2 separate regions of the Homo sapiens genome follow, and region 1 is linked to region 2. Evidence: fine-mapped expression QTL. A gene starts in region 2. The other region holds a variant in brackets. All regions are shown on one strand. Distances are from middle to middle. Region 1 overlaps PEX1 (peroxisomal biogenesis factor 1). Region 2 holds the start of PEX1 (peroxisomal biogenesis factor 1).

Evidence for each region. PIP is the estimated chance that this variant, and not a neighbour inherited with it, causes the effect.
Region 1: its variant is fine-mapped to the expression of PEX1 in whole blood (TOPMed, PIP 0.98).

Annotation. Positions count from the first base shown.
Region 1 is chr7:92,505,598-92,508,624 of GRCh38, reverse strand. It overlaps PEX1 (peroxisomal biogenesis factor 1), which reads left to right. Exons shown (of 24, transcript NM_000466.3): 10 at 1,499-1,631; 11 at 2,281-2,377. Among named protein-coding and RNA genes, the nearest start is that of PEX1, 21 kb to the left of the region's middle. The variant GGGA/A (reference allele first, on the strand shown) is at 1,816.
Region 2 is chr7:92,526,982-92,529,481 of GRCh38, reverse strand. PEX1 (peroxisomal biogenesis factor 1) reads left to right here and starts at 962. Exons shown (of 24, transcript NM_000466.3): 1 at 962-1,175. The coding sequence starts at 1,047. It overlaps RBM48 (RNA binding motif protein 48), which reads right to left and starts at 687. Exons shown (of 5, transcript NM_032120.4): 1 at 558-687; 2 at 1-6. The coding sequence starts at 668. RefSeq lists enhancers at 384-763, 1,364-1,543 and a silencer at 904-1,133.

The DNA of each region.
Region 1 (3,027 bases), 21 kb after region 2:
GTTTTAGTAAAAGGATTAAACGATAAAGTCAAAATGTTTATAGCACAGTGTTTATTAATATAAAATAAAATCTCTTTTTTTTTTTTTGAGATGGACTCTCACTTTGTCACTCAGGCTGGAGTGCAGTGTTGCAATCTCAGCTCATTGCAACCTCCGCCTCCTGGGTTCAAGCAATCCTTCCGCATCAGCCTCCTAAGTAGCTGGGATTACAAGCATGCACCACCACACCTGCCTAATTTTTTGTATTTTTAGTAGAGATGGGGTTTCACCATGTTGGCCAGGCTGGTCTCAAGTGATCCGCCTGCCTCAGCCTCCCAAAGTGCTGGGATTACAGGCGTGAACCACTGTGCCCAGCATAAAGTAAAATCTCTTCAGACTCTCATGTGATCATGTAAAGTGGCAGGCAGTCACAGTCAAGAAGTAGTTTAAAGTTCATGTTTGTAAAATATAATCTACAGATTGATACTGGATTTCATAGGTAATGTTTAAGAGAAAATAAGTTTTTAGTTATCCTCAGTACTTCAAAAGCACCCATTTATGATTATGTTGATTACTAAACTAAATCATTTGGGGGCTAGAGGTGTTTTTTTATGTGTTAAGATTCCTTAAGGAGTTCTATTAGGGCAAAACTTTTAGTAACTGCATATTTTAAAAGTAATAAAACTAATTTTAAAAGCTTGGAGGCTGGGCGCGGTGGCTCACACCTGTAATTCCAGCACTTTGGGAGGCCAAGGCGGGTGGATCACTTGAGGTCAGGAGTTTGAGACGAGCCTGAGCAACATGGTGAAACCTTGTCTCTACTAAAAATACAGAAATTAGCCAGGTGTGGTGGTGGGCACCTGTAATCCCAGCTACTCGGGAGGCTAAGGCAGGAGAATTGCTCGAACTTGGGAGGCAGAGGTTGCAGTGAGCCGAGATCATGCCACTGCACTCCAGCCTGGGTGACAGAGCAAGACTCCGTCTCAAAAAAAAAAAAAAAAAAAAGCTTGAAGTCAGATTCGACATTAATCAGTATACTTTCTCTCAAGTAGGGGACAATTTCTAAGATTTTAGTCTTTTAAAATTTATTAACTAGTCTGAGCATGGTGGCTTGTGTCTATAATCCCAGCACTTTGTGGGGCCGAGGCAGATGGATCACTTGAGCCCAGGAGTTGGAGACTAGCCTGGGCAACATGGCAAAACCCCGTCTCTACAACAAATGCACACACAAAAAACCCAATCAGCTGGGTGTGGTGTTACACTCCTGAAGTCCCAGCTACTCGGGAGGCTGAGGCAGGAGGATCACCTTTGCCAGGGCGTTTGAGGCTGCAGGGAGCTGGGTTCACACCACTGCGCTCCAGCCTGGATGACACAGCAAGCCCCTTTCTCAAAAAAAAAAAGATAAAAAATTAAATTAAATTAATTAACTACACTGGGAAGGCAAAATTCAGCATTTTTTTATAGCTAAATTTTATCCTGCTTCAGTCTTTTATCATGTAACTATGTATATTTTTTACAGAGGAGTGAATTCCTTAGGCGTATCCTCCTTGGAGCACATCACTCACAGCCTCCTGGGACGCCCTTTGTCTCGGCAGCTGATGTCTCTTGTTGCAGGACTTAGGAATGGAGCTCTTTTACTCACAGGAGGAAAGGTAAGTGGTTAAGGTGTGTTCATTTTTCTGTAACATTTAATAACTTTTCATTTATCTTTCTTTGGGTTTTGACCATCTATTATATAGGGTGGGTTTTGACCATCTATTATATAGGGTTTATACGACATATGGAAAGCATTCATTTATTCACTAATATTTCTGTGTGTCTGCTTTTAGGTGTTGG[GGGA/A]GTGATGACGAATAAGACTGATGTTCTCCATGCCCTTTTTCTGTGTCAGTTGATACAATTATATGGTTTTTCTTTTTTAGGCTATTAGGTGTTGATAGGGTTGAGTAACTTACAAATGTTGAACCAGCCTTGCATACCTGTGATAAATACCACGTAGTTGTGGTGTATCATTCTTTCTACATTGCTGAGTTTTATCTGCTAATGTTCTGTTGAGCTTTTGTCCATTTAAGTTTGAAAGTGATTAGTTTGCAGTTTTCTGTTTTTGTGTTGTCTTTGTCTGGTTTTGCTATCCGTGTAAATCTGGCCTCATAAAATGAGATGGGAAGTATTCTCTCCTCTTCTTTTGTTTTTTTGGAAGAGGTTGTATAAAATTGAGGCTGAATCTTGGTGGTTGCCACAATGACAGGAACTATTTCTGTGACTGAATATATTGGGAATTCCTATAAAGCAATTATTTTCTAGGGAAGTGGAAAATCAACTTTAGCCAAAGCAATCTGTAAAGAAGCATTTGACAAACTGGATGCCCATGTGGAGAGAGTTGACTGTAAAGCTTTACGAGGTATGAGTATGGTAACACTCTATATAAATCCCTTTTTCATTAGAAAGACAGGAATGTTATACATAATGCTGTCAATCTAATAAATACACATATCATCTAGTCTTTAACTTTTCTGTTTATCATTTAGTCATTAAAATTTCTTTGGCTTTCTAATGTTTTTGATAAAATTTCTAAAACTCTCCATATTTAATGGAGGCCTATTTTTTTTTCTAGCCAGAACTTTTTGTAGACTACATTTCTGGAAGTGCTCACTGACACCACTCTGAAAAATTAGTACTTAGAATATACTCTAATTGGTATAAATGATCTCTGAATTGCTATGGAAAACTGGGAGAATGGTTGCTTCAGGGGAGAGAAAGTAGGAGGCTGTGGACAGCAATGAGGAGAATTACAGTTCACCATATAACACTTTTGTACTTTTAAAGTCCTTAACATTTACATTATTATCTATTCAATTAAAAAATATTGGGAAGATTTTACTTTGAACAGTTAATTTTTCCCCCATGGGTACCGCTGTCATATAGTTCCAACTAATCATGAACTTGTGTATTTCCTGTTCTTTGTAAATTTAAACTTTGTAACTCACCAGGAAGTTTGAAGCCAAATTTGTGTTTCAAATATAGCAACTCCAGGATCTCTAGGCAGATGCA
Region 2 (2,500 bases):
ATATACCTGAAAGAAATGCAGAGTTATTAAACGTATTTCGCAAATAAGCCTAGGACGAATCTGCCTCTATTTTTTTTTAAAGAGAACTTTGAAAACAAGAAATAATCTGTTCAACCCAGTCAGCAAAAGAACACAAAATGAAATTTCTGCCATTCCTTCTGCATAAAGAATAACAGTCCATGTGAGAGGCTACCTAAGGCATATAACAGACTACCTTCAGTCGACATTTTTTTCCAGAAATTGAGTCGGTAGAAGTCACTGGGAACAATCACTCAACGAATATTCACTGAGTGCTTACCTGTGCCAAGTAGTACTGTAAACACAGAAGATCCAATGACTAAAACCAAGGCCTATTCTCGTGGAGTTGATGTTCTAATACTTGACCAAAGGCGTCGTGAGAATCTTTGGTAACTGACCGAGGGTTCTTCACGCCAGCTCTAACGAGAGACAGATCTGACGGAAGCCTTGTCGTGCCTTTATTTCCGTAGGCTGGTCATATGGCGCTAGCACTCACATAAAGCTACCGAGGAGAGCGAATGAAACCAAAATCACTTTACCTTCACAGCACGAGGCCGTCGTCCCTCTCGATATTTGGCCCGTGTGTCGCATACCGCCCTCTGGACGTGGTGATCAAATAAACTCCCTAGCTCCCCGCCGCTCGACGCCATCTTGCCTACTTTGATCCTCGCAGGGAGGACAACATCCGCCCTACTGAGCTCCCTTTTATCCAATAAGAGAGCGGGATGAGTTAAGGAGTGCCAGGATTGGCTGGAGAATCGACAGCGTCGGCCATCGTTTCCTGCGTGCGAAGATTTGATGAACGAGGTGCCGCCCCCGAGCGGCTCGGCGGAGAGGCGCGGTGGGTGACAGAAGCTTTCTTGTCCCACCCACTACAGGCTTACGGCAGGATGCGCAGCGGGGAGAGGGGGCGGGGCCGCAGGGGGCGGGGCCGATCGATCTCCTCCGGCTCCGACGTCCTCGGCCTGCCGGGTCCCGGGTCCTTTGCGGCGCTAGGGTGGGCGAACCCAGAGCGACGCTCCGGGACGATGTGGGGCAGCGATCGCCTGGCGGGTGCTGGGGGAGGCGGGGCGGCAGTGACTGTGGCCTTCACCAACGCTCGCGACTGCTTCCTCCACCTGCCGCGGCGTCTCGTGGCCCAGCTGCATCTGCTGCAGGTAACCTGCCGGCCCCGAGCCACCTGATCTTCAGCCTGGGGTCGGACGAGGCCGAAGCCTCTCAGGGACGCGGCGGGACACCGGCTGCCACCCGGGCGCCGCCGAAGCGCGCAGAGATCAGGGTCCCTCGACGGCAGGGCCCTTCTGGGTAGTCTCTGGATCCCACAAGTCCAGTGCAGCCCTGGGCTCGTCTTATCCCAGGTCTTTTCACTTGGTGAAACTGAACCTAGAAACGTCCTAATATTCTACCACTGTTTTTATAAATATTCCTTATTCCAGGCTGGAAAAGCTCCTGAGAAGTGGTTTGTTTTTATTATTTTAAAAGGTGTTTTCCTTGCCAGCCATTTCCAGTTAACCTGCGCTGCTGCCGTCCGGGCCGCGAGAGCGGGACGCAGAGTTGTTGGCGGAGCCCCTGTCGGTTCCCGGGGACTAAGCACCGCGTCCCATGAGCGGGAAAGGTTAATACAATGATGGTTCTGCCCTGCGTCGCTGACGCGGAACACAGCTGTAGTGTGTTAGGAACACATAACGTAGTTAAGATCACTTGAAGCTCTGCGATCAGTCGCCCTTCTGGACGTTGTGGTTAGGATGTTTCACAGTTCTAACCACTGGTGGAGATACAGCGTCCATATTTTCATAATTAAAAATAGAGGCACATGGTCTCACGAGTTTGAGTGTACTTATGGGGGCAAAAGGACGGCGTATTTGAAATCCTCATAAATCCTGGATGCATGGTACCCACCAGTGGCTAATCTATGCAATGAATAGAGTTTGCAATAATTTCAAGCATCCCTTCTTTCCACTTGAGTTACTTCCCCATACCTAGGGGAAGATATTTTTGGTCCACTGAAAACATGAGTTCAGCAGAATCCTCCTATCATCGTCGTTATTATTTTTTACCACTAAGTAGACAATCTTTTGGTTTTTGATGGGCTTTATGGCTAGAGACAAATCAGTCACTGTCACCAAGTTCCAGGTAGAAGTTGGTTCAGTGCTCTGTCAGCTTCGATGGGATTTTTCAACATGTTTTCAAATCTGCACTTAATAGTAGGAATGCTTTCTTACAGTAACTCTAATTTGATCCTAAGATGTAGTTGTTACCTTACATTCATCACTGTTTAAGAATTTAGTGGTCTTGATCTTTGTTTTAAATTTTGAGCCTTCGGGAAGTACTTATAAGAATTAATTCATGCATATCTTTTTGAAATGTAAATGTCTTTAGCCCTGGAACAAATTGCTGTTTCTGTTCAGCCCATATTAGCAGAATAGGTCAACTTTACTTTCTAATTATCAATGTAATAAGTTTATTACTTTATAGATTCCAT